3 linked regions of the Homo sapiens genome follow. The protein of the gene in region 3 interacts with the protein of the main gene of each other region in a biochemical or structural test. Each region holds a gene or a part of one and is shown on either strand. Other genes may lie near its edges. The genes, in order: ABCC4, PBK and SHROOM4.

Region 1 (3,651 bases), on a different chromosome or scaffold from region 3:
TTAATTTTTTAATTTTTGAGATGGAGTTTCACTCTTGTTGCCCAAGCTGGAGTGCAGTGGCGTGATCTCGGCTCATTGCAACCTCTGCCTCCGGAGTTCAAGCGATTCTCCTGTCTCAGCCTCCCAAATAGCTGGGACTACAGATGTGCGCCACCATGCTCAGCTAATTTTTTGTACTTTTAGGAGAGATGGGGTTTCAACATGTTGTCCAGGCTGGTCTTGAACTCCTGACCTCGGGTGATCCACCCACCTGGGCCTCCCAAAGTGCTGGGATTACAGGCGTGAGCCGCCATGCCCAGCCTGGACTATGTTTTCTACCCCAACCTTGTGGTCAGAGGTGACCATGAAACTGAGACCTGGCCAATAGGAAGTGGTTGCAAAAGGTGTCTCGCTTCCACGACTGGAACACAAAAACCAGCCCCATGCAACGCCTCTCCAGCTGAATAAAGAGGCCTCCTGGAGAGGAGGAGGACTGAGAGGAGGCCGAGCCGCAAGATGGTGAAAGTCCAGCTAGGAGTAAATGTATGGTGTTGTTCACCACCCTAGATGGCCCAAAAGGGGACTATAGCATGACAATAGGCATGGTCTTGGTTTCTTGTTTTCTTTTTTGAGACGGAGTCTATCTCTGTCTTGCAGGCTAGAGTGCAGTGGCGTGATCTCGGCTCACTGCAACCTCTGCCTCCCGGGTTCAAGCGATTCTCTTGCCTTAGCCTCCTCCCAAGTATCTGGGATTACAGGAGCTCAAAACCACGCCCGGATAATTTTTTATTTATTTATTTATTTTGTATTTTTAGTAGAGAAGGGGTTTTGCTGTGTTGGCCAGGCTGGTCTCCAACTCCTGACTTCATGTGATCCACTGCCTCGGCTGGTGATTTTGAATTAAGCCATTGAGAATCAGGGCTTGTTTAATAGCTAGCATTATTTGCACGATACAGTGGCTGCCTCCCTCATTGTGTGAGCTCTTTGAGAACAGGAATGGTACTTTATTGTAATGGATTTGCACCTGGCAAGAAAGAAGGCACCCTGCCTTCTTTCATGGTGGCACATGCCTGTAATCCCAGCTACTTGGGAGACCGAGCAGGAGAATCGCTTTAACCCAGGAGGTGGAGGCTGCAGTGAGCCAAGATTGCACCACTGCACTCCAGCCTGGGCTACAGAATGAGACTCTGTCTCAAAAAAAAAAAAAAGCAAAAGAAAACGTAGTCCAGGCTGGGTGCGGTGGCTTATGCCTGTAATCCCAGCACTTTGGGAGGCCGAGGCAGGTGGATCACAAGGTCAGGAGTTCAAGACCAGCCTGGCCAACGTAATGAAACCCCGTCTCTACTAAAAATACAAAAATTAGCTGGGCGTGGTGGCATGCACCTGTAGTCCCAGCTACTCGAGAGGCTGAGGCAGGAGAATTGCTTGAACCCGGGAGGCAGAAGTTGCAGTGAGCCAAGATCACGCCACTGCACTCCAGCCTGGGCAACAGAGCGAGACTCCATCTCAAAAAAACATAGTCCGTGTGTCCAGCAGTCGCTGCTGCAGGAGTTCATCCTGAACCCGTGTTGGGTGTGCTGGAGTAGAAGTATGGAAAAGCTGTGTGAGGGTGGGGATTTTGTTTTTGTTTTTGTTTTTTGAGATGGAGTCTCTGTCGCACAGGCTGGAGTGCAGTGGCATGATCTCGGCTCACTACAACCTCCGCCTCCCGGGCTCAAGCGATTCTCCTGCCGCAGCCTCCCAAGTAGCTGGGATTACAGATGTGCACCACCAGGCCTGGCTAATTTTTTTGTTGTTGTTAGAGACAGGGTTTTGCCATGTTGGCCAAGATGGAGATCTCTGGGGAGGGGTTTACCTTCCTGTTGGAGCTTGGATGGAGAAGGTGGGAAATCGTTCCTGGCAGGGGATGAGATGTCCAGGTCACAGAACTGCAGTTGGAGAAAGTGTTGCCTGAGACGTGTGGCGAATGACCACCCCTCAGTCGCTATGTCGTCCCTGCCAGCCGGTAGCGTTTGTTACACCCAAGGTTGCCCTCCCCTCTTTCATCCCAGCAGATGTTCAGACTTTGCTTCTCCCACTTCCAGCCCCTTACTCATGAGTACTTACAGCCCTTTTGTGGCCTGCGACGTAGCTCCTTGTTCCATTTCTGGGTTCCATGACCACTTCCGTGCTGGTCTGTTTCAGGCCTAGTCCCTGTCTGCTCTTTTCTCTGCGCTAGCTCCTATCTTCCCCTTTTCCTTAGTGTCATAGAATTAGTGGGTTGAAAGGAAGAGATCTTCTAGCCCACACTCAGTACAGGAATCCCTTCCAGATACTGGGCAGTGGGGAAATGCATTATGTGACTCTCATGACTTTAGATTCGAATGCCAGAATTATGTTGTATTGAGCCACAGTTTTCTTTCCATGCAATTTCTACTTGTGTTTACTTACTTCTAAGAAAAGCATTACAGAATTTAATGAAGCAAAGAATGATCTGTGAATCAAGCAGCTCCTAGAACCAAAATAGGTTCAGAGCCGCTCTCCTTTGTTTTTTTGTCAACACGCAGAGCAAGTTGGCTACCTCCCTTCATATGCTCGCCTCATAGTATTCAAAGACAGCTATCATGGCCACATTAAATCTTTGTTTCTTTGTTTGAGACAGGGTGTCACTCTGTCACCCAGGCTGGATTGCAGTGGTGCGATCTCAGTTCACTGCAACTTTCACCTCCTGGGCTCAAGCCATCCTTCCACCTCAGCCCCCTGAGTAGCTGGGACCACAGGTGTGTGCCAGCATGCCCAGCTAATTTTTTATATTTTTTGTAGAGATGAAGTTTTGCCATGTTGCCCTGGCTGGTATTGAACTCCTGGGCTCAAGTGATCCTCCCGCCCTAGCCTCCAAAAGTGCTGGGATTACAGGCATGCGCCATGGTGCCTGGACAGGAGTTTATTTTTGACCCTGTTAAGTTTGAGATGCCTGCTACACATTCAAGTGGAGATGTTGAATAGGCATTCAATTGGTCATGAGTTTGGGGCTCATGGAGAAGTTTATCTTATTATTATTATTTCTTTAAATGGAGTTTCACTGTGTTGCCCAGGCTGGCGTGCAGTGGTATGATCTTGGCTCACTGCAACCTCCACCTTCTGGTTCAAGCAATTCTCGTGCCTCAGCCTCCCGAGTAGCTGGGATTACAGGCACGCGCCACCACACCCAGCTAATACTTGTATTTTAGTAGAGATGGAGTTTCATCATGTTGGCCAATGTGGTCAGGAAGTTTATGTCAATTTGGGCATCATCAGTGATACATGCAGTTGAGCTATATTGGACACATGGCCAATTGACCTCACAGTCCGCAGGGCTTGTCCCCATGTAACTGCTCTTCTATCCCTATGCAAATTCATTTTGTAGATGCTAACGTTTAGCAGCTCATTGTTGCTGTTGAAAGTTCTTGGAACACTTTCGTAGTCTGAATGCTAGAAAGGATGGGTCCTAGGAATGTCCTCTAGGTTGTGGCAGATCCACTAATCAACACTGTGGTTGCTAGATTAACTTGGCCACAAGTGTCAAGAGAGGTCGTGTCATATGGAGGTCTGCTTTATGGAAGTCAAGAGGTATTGGAGTATTGGATCACCTGGGCACTTCTGTCTTTTTTTTTTTTTTGAGACAGGATCTTGCCTTGCCAGCCAGCCTTGGAG
Region 2 (3,651 bases), on a different chromosome or scaffold from region 3:
TTAGAAGAGCATATCTTAGGAGGGCAACGCTGCAGAAAAGACAGCAGTCACTGACATCACCCAATACTGGCTTCCTCTTTGAGGTTTTCTCATGAAGAATCTGGTTTAATTACCACAAAGGAACCCTTTCCCCTGCCACTTCCCCTTCTTATGGAAGCCAAGGAAAAATTAAAAAGTAAATGACTTCCCCTTTAATAACCCATCAGGAGGAAGCTAGGAGAAAAGCAGAGGCAGAGCTACAGGCAAAGTTACAAAAGGGTCTAGGGACCGGAATACAGCCATCAGCCAGGATCAGGAGCAGACAACCGAATCTAAATACTGGAATTTTCAGACTACTTCTTTGTCTCCAAGTACAGTAGAATTATAGTTGCATGAAAAAAGGTTAATCTGAAATCTTATACTTACCTTTTCATTAGGTACACATTTACCCCAGTACCAAAGCCAAGCTTCTGCATAAACGGAGAGGCCGGGATATTTATAGTTGGAGTTGAACATAATACTAAATGTCAGAGAAATAAAAAATAAAATTAATAAAAAATAAAAATAAAGCATCTTAACATTCTCAATATACTACTGCCAAGAGTATTAATTGGCACAGTCTTTTTGGAGAGCAATTTGACAACATATATCCTAATTTTAAATGGGTATCTTTTGACCAAGCCTACTTTTGGAGTTTTATCCTACAGTAACTCTGAAGCAGAGATTGGGAAATGGCCTGTTTTTGTATGGCCTACAAGCTAAGAACTGTTTTCACATTTTTAAAACATTGTTAAAAGATAAAGGGGTTGGATGTGGTGGCTCATGCCTATAATCTCAACGCTTTTGGAGTCCGGGGCAGGAGGGTCACTTGAGCCCAGTAGAGACCAGCTTGGGCAACATAAAGAGACTCCATCTCTACACACGAAAAAATTTTTTTAATTAGCCAGGAATGATGGCACACACCTGTGGTCTCAGCTACTTGGGAGAAACACTTGAGCCCAGGAGGTTAAGGGTGCAGGTGCAGTGAGCTGTGTTCAGCCTGGGTGACAGAGCAAGACACAGTCTCAAAAAAAAAAAAAAAAAAAAAAAAAGATGAAAAGATGGAGTTCTGCTTCTGCTCATGAAAAATAATTAACTACTCCTGGACAATTAACTGCTCCTAGAGTTACCATCTCGCCATTAACTAGAAAACTAGACAAAATATAATTGTTTTCAGACACTTGACAACAGGCAGAGCAGTGTTGTGATGCCTGAGAGAAGAGAAACAAATGAGGTGGGCCCTATCACTGCCCTAACTTACTGCTTGAAGGCAGTTTCCAGACTGCAGGACAGAGGTCACATAATCCAGAAGTCCTGTCACATTGAAGAGACAGAGATCAGAGGTCAAGAAGGACTAGGCGGCTAGAATTTGTGGAGCAGAGAACTAGAGAGCTCCAAAGAGAGCACTCCAAAGATCTGAACAGTTTCTCTTTGAGTGTTTGGCCAAGTACTTATCCGCACATAACAATGTGTAGATGCCCCAAAGCTGGGAAAGCACCAGAGGAAAGCAATTGGCTCAACAATTACCAGAGATCATACAAGTCTAGGAACACTTCATATCACCATGAGCTAGAGGATGGTAACCCTGTAACACATAGTAAAGTCCTCTAAAGGGTCACAACTAGATAGTACAGCTAAAGTTTAGCCCCAGATAAACATTCAAAACAAAGCTTAAAAGCCAGTCTCAAAAGGAACAGGCTAATGTGCAGGTAACTTAACCTCAGACCATAACTAAATCAAACACTCTTTAAAGGAATAACAAAATCCAGTACTAGACAATGCAAAATATCTACTGCCCAATCAAAAAGTACCAGGCATGAAAGCAGCAAGAAAATATGACCAATATAGGAGAAAAATAAATCAATAGAGGCCTAGCGCGGTGGCTCACGCCTGTAATCCCAGCACTTTGGGAGGCCGAGGCAGGCAGATCACTAGGTCAGGAGTTCGAGACCAGCCTGGCCAACATGGTGAAACCCCGTCTCTACTAAAGAGGCAAAAAATTAGCCAGGTGTGGTGGCACGTGCCTGTAATCCCAGCTACTCGGGAGGCTGAGGCAGGAGAATGGCGTGAACCCAGGAGGCGGAGGTTACAGTGAGCTGAGATAGCGCCATTGCACTCCAGCCTGGGCGACAGGGCACAAGACTCCATCTCAAAAAATTAAAAAATCAATCAATCAATAGAAACATACCATAAGATGACAGGAGGCCAAGAGTGGTGGCTCACGCCTGTAATCCCAGCACTTTGGGAGGCTGAGGCAGGTGGATCACTTGAGGCCAGGAGTTCAAGACCAGCCTGGCCAACATGGCGAAACCCTGTCTCTACTAAAAATACAAAAATTAGCTGGGCGTGGTAGCACGTGCCTGTAATCCCGACTACTCGGGAGGCTGAGGCAGGATAATTGCTTGAACCCAGGAGGTGGAGGTTGCAGTGAGCTGAGATCGCACCATTGCACTCCGGCCTGGGTGACAGAGCAAGATTCTGTCTCAAGAAAAAAAAAAAAAAAAAAAATGACAGGAATGGCAAAATTAGCAGATAAGAACCTTAAGACAAATCTTAAAAATGTGCTCAATGATACAAAGGAAAATCTGAGCATAACGGAAAAAAAAAGACAAAATAGAAGCTTAGGAATGAAAAATACAATGGATAAGAATAACATCATCTTAGAGCAGAAGAATAACTAAATCTTAAGACAGAGCAACAAAAACTATCAAAAATGAAGCAAAGAGAGAAAAAGGTTAGAAAAAAATCATCAATGAGCTATGGGACAATAGCAAAACAGCCGATTTACATCCAACAATAGACAATTACATTGAGTATAAATGGTCTAAACAGAGCTGTCCAATACATCATGCTGCCATGTGGAAATGTCTATATCTGTGCTGTCTGAGCGCTGAGCACTTAAAATGTGACTAATACAACTGAGGAACTCAATTTGTAATTTTATTTAATTCTAATTAATTTGTATCCAAATTTAAATAACCACATTTAATAATCCAAATTTAAATAACCAAATTTAAATAGCCACATGTAGCTAATGGCAAAACAGTCCAGTTAAAGGAAATTAAAGTTGTCAGAACGGATAAAAACAAGACGAGACATGCCATTTATAATAAACTCAATTTAAATATAAAGACGCAAATAGGGCAAGAGTAAAGGGTTGAAAAACATCATTAAAACACAAATCAAAATAAATCTGGAGTGGCTCCATTACTATCACATAAAGTGGACTCCAGAACAAAGAGTACCACTGAGGATTAAGAAGGGTATTTCGTAACAGTTAAGGTATAAATTCATCAAAAGAAATAACCATCCTAGGCCAGGCATGGTAATCCCAACACTTTGGGATCTGACTTGTGGTTTATGTGTCTTGGTGAATGTTGCATGCACTTGAAAGGGAGGCCAAGGAGAGTGGATCACTTGAGGCCAGGAGTTTGAGACCAGCCTGCCCAACATGGCGAAAACCTGTCTCTACTGAAAATACAAAAATTAGCCGGCCATGGTGGTGCACGCCTGTAATCCCAGCTACTCCAGAGGCCAAGGCACCAGAATCACTTGAGCCCAGGAGGTAGAGGTTGCAGTGAGCCGAGATCACACTGTTGTACTCCATTACGGGTGACAAAAGGAAACTCAAAA
Region 3 (3,651 bases):
TCTACAAGAAAAATATTTAGGGTATGTGTGAAAGTTCTGTGTCAGAAGGTGTTATAAAGGAAAAAAAGGATGTGCTAATTGGAGACTCAGTTCCCCAGCATACACATCCCTGCATCATATTATAGTATATCACATTAGGCACTATATTCTAGGGATCCTTTCCTTATCACCTCCATTAATAGGGAAGTGATTATAGGTGGTCTATGTAGTAAACATCAAAGCAAAAAGCAGATTCCTTTCACAGAGCACTGAGAGGAAATGCATAGAGTCCATAAAGCAAGCTATACCTATACCTGAATCAGTTATTAGACTTAAATAATACTTAATTATTCCACTAGCTGGCTTCTGTGTGTATCCCAGCATTTTTTAACAGAACAGTATGTAGGTTATAAAGGTACTAGAGTTTAACTTGGCTGAAATTAGGATATCTTTGTTTGCATTTTAGATTCAAAATATTATGCATCTATATGTCCCTTACAAAATCTTAAAGCTGCTTCCTTCTGGCTAGGACACTGTCCTCTCCTAGGGTCTGGAATAGAATCTTCTTCAAGAGCCCAGAGATCGTGGGATGATATAGCAAGCATAGTGAGCTACCTGAGATCTTGTGATAAAGTTACTTTATCTCCCTGGGCCTTGCTTTTTTCATCTAAGAAATGGAGAAGATGAATGGTAACTATTTCATAGGTTTATTTTCATGATTAAATCAATCATTACCCAAAGTGCTTAGAACAATGCAGGGCACATAGTAAGCAATCAAAAAAATTAGCTATTTTGGGAATGATGCTGTTCCTTAAATCTCCATCACTCAAAGGAGCATCTAATTGATTTTGTAGTCACAAGCAGAGCTGTGTGCAAACAAATGTTTTCCCTTACATCCTAGAGTCATTAAAAATAAATCTCTGGAGCAAGTTACAAGATCTCTAGTAATAGTGATTTCTTTCTGTCTGGCCAAGGTGCCAAGGCAAAGGGAGCTACACAAAGAAGGAAGAACCAGGGCTTGTAACTGCTGCCTCTGGTACACCTTGCCCTACAGGAGAGAAGAGGACCCTGTGACTCCTGGCCTATGGAAAGAACAAGATCTCTCTGGGAGAGGCTGCCTAGGAAGGCAAAATAAGCATGGGCTTTGGAGTCAGACAGCTCTGGCTTTGAATGTTTGCTGTGTAACTTGGAATTAGTTAGTTTCCTCATCTGTCAAATGGGGATAATAATGGCTAATAGGGCTATTGGGAGGATTAAATGAAATAGATACATAATGTCTGGCAGTGTCTGGTATATAAGAAATACTTAATAAATGTTCATCCATTCATTTATTTGTTCTTTCTTCTTAAATATTTGTTAAGTGCCTACTATTGGGAGGTCATTTTCCCTTTTCCCTGCTATGATAGATAACAATCACAGGTATTTTTCACAAAATGTTTTCTAATTACAATGAGAATGCTCCCCAGGTAGAAGAACAGCTTGAGAAGCAGCCACATGGGATCTAATGAAGGATTCTTTTTTTTTTTTTTAATTATACTTTAAATTTTAGGGTACATGTGCACATTGTGCAGGTTAGTTACATATGTATACATGTGCCATGCTGGTGCGCTGCACCCACTAACTCATCATCTAGCATTAGGTATGTCTCCCAATGCTATCCCTCCCCCCTCCCCCCCTCATGAAGGATTCTTAACAGTGCCTGGGAGCCAGGCCCTGTAAATGCTGTGCTTATGGCATCTTGGGCTGGAAAACTGATCAACTAGCTCCACATAGACAAGTCACAGATTTGTCTGACAATAAAAGACATGATAACAAGGTACTTCTAACCGCAACAAGTCTCAGGCAAATTCCTGCTATAAAGAGAGTTAAGGAAAGCACTTATAAGCCACCTGCCTCCCGAACCTCAGCCCCAGCAGAGAGTGGGCTGAGCTCTCCACAGGAGAGCAGGTGGAGCTGCTGACAGCCAGAGCACTGAGCAATAATAGCAATGATGGTCCTGGGGCTTTTGCTTTGGAGCAAAAGAAATTAAAAAAAAAAACCCAACCATGCACTATAGGGCATGCAGATGACAACTGGCTCAGTGGAGTGAACAAACACTGGCAGTCCTGCTGCCAGAACACACTCTTGCTTTGGCCTCCCTGCCCAGGCAGCTCACCCTGTCAACTACCACCTATTACACACCCACATGAATGCAAAGAGGCAGGTAAACAAGGAGGGGGAGAAAGTGGAAGAGAAAAAGAATGTCCTTATCTATTGTAAGGAATTATCAAGGCATGAAGCACCCAGCCCCAGGAATACCTTTGATGCTGGTGGTTGTGGGGGGACGAGTTTAGAAGCCCAGGCTACTTGTCCTAGAGCAGAGGCAGGTCAGGTTGTGAGCTGGCCTCTTATTCTGGAGGGCAAGCAGAAGAGAAGGCAGGAAAAGTGCCTGAGCCAGGTTTCTGGGAAAGACCTAGTATAGGCAACAAGTGTTCAATGCCTTTGGGATCAGGGGCCAGAAATTGATGGATACCATGAAGACACACTAAGGAAAAGTATAGTACTTTAATAAAGATATTTAGGGATAAGAACATGATATTTACTGAGCATGTACTATGTGCTAAGCATGGAGCTATATCCTTTATGTAGATTATCTTAATATTCATAACAATCATGTGAAGCAAGTATCATTATACCCATTTTCCAGGTAAGAAAACTGAGGCTGGGAGCAGTTTAACTGGCCAGCCTGAGGTCATCCAGTTAGTAAATAGTGGAGGTAAAATTCAAACTTGTGCTGCCTGCCTCTTCAGAGACCTAGTATCTTTCATATGTACTTACTTGGCGGATTCAGTGGCTTCCTGTCCCGATGTCCTCCAAAGCCCACCAATGCCATAGTAGCAAGGGGGCTGAGCCTGCTCAGGTTGAGATCCCAAGTGACCCCTTATTGGAGGCAAGAAATCACTGGAATGGAGTGCAAAGGATTCTTGCTCTGCTGGGACACTTTGTGAACCCTGTCTCGAGCCCTCCAGGTGGCCAAAGCTGAGGGGTTGTGGCTGCTCTAGGACCTCCTCAGGATTGAGAGCACAGGAACCAGAGGTTTCTGAACTGAAATACTGGGGTGGCAGCTCCTCTTCCTCCTCCTCTGCCTCCTCCTCCTCCTCTTCCTCTTCCTCTTCTTCTTCTTCTTCCTCCTCCTCCTCCTCCTCCTGTTGCTTCTGCTGCTGCTGTTGCTGCTTCTGCTGCTGGGCTGCACGAAAGAGCCTGTACTTCTCCCAGTTGGGAGGAGGAGGGCGAGGAGGAGGAAAGGCCTTCTTCCTGGCTCCGAGAAGATCCGACTGGGTCTCATCACCTTTGCTAAAGAGCTCCCTCCTATGCTGCCCCCAGGCCCGGGTGCTTTGGGGCGCCAAGCTGATGTGACTCTCTGAGAAGGCACGGCTGCGCAGTGGGTGGGGCATGGAGGCAAGGGAGCTCCCCTCCTCATAAACTGAAGTTTCCTCTGATTTTTTCAAAGCATGTTTGAAGTCTCCAAGGAGGTCAAGAGAAGAAATTGCTCGGTAGCTTGACAAGTCCAGTGCTGGGTTCTCAAGGCAAGGATGGAAAGGGGTTGCCCATGAAAAGCTAGTCTTGGAATGAGCCATTTCCCTGCAAAACATCAGATGAGTACTGAGAAAAACAAGCAAGTTGCAGATAGGC

What was found.
Region 1: the proteins of SHROOM4 (region 3) and ABCC4 interact in a test that uses a peptide from one of them, tested with the Homo sapiens proteins (one large-scale study listed by IntAct).
Region 2: the proteins of SHROOM4 (region 3) and PBK interact in a test that uses a peptide from one of them, tested with the Homo sapiens proteins (one large-scale study listed by IntAct).

What each region holds. Positions count from the first base shown.
Region 1 is NC_000013.11:95,291,321-95,294,971, reverse strand, and holds part of ABCC4 (ATP-binding cassette sub-family C member 4), read left to right. Parts: intron 1-3,651. UniProt on the Homo sapiens protein: ATP-dependent transporter of the ATP-binding cassette (ABC) family that actively extrudes physiological compounds and xenobiotics from cells.
Region 2 is NC_000008.11:27,827,700-27,831,350, forward strand, and holds part of PBK (lymphokine-activated killer T-cell-originated protein kinase), read right to left. Parts: intron 500-3,651; coding exon 406-499; intron 1-405. UniProt on the Homo sapiens protein: Phosphorylates MAP kinase p38. Seems to be active only in mitosis. May also play a role in the activation of lymphoid cells.
Region 3 is NC_000023.11:50,604,585-50,608,235, forward strand, and holds part of SHROOM4 (protein Shroom4), read right to left. Parts: intron 3,601-3,651; coding exon 2,797-3,600; intron 1-2,796. UniProt on the Homo sapiens protein: Probable regulator of cytoskeletal architecture that plays an important role in development. May regulate cellular and cytoskeletal architecture by modulating the spatial distribution of myosin II.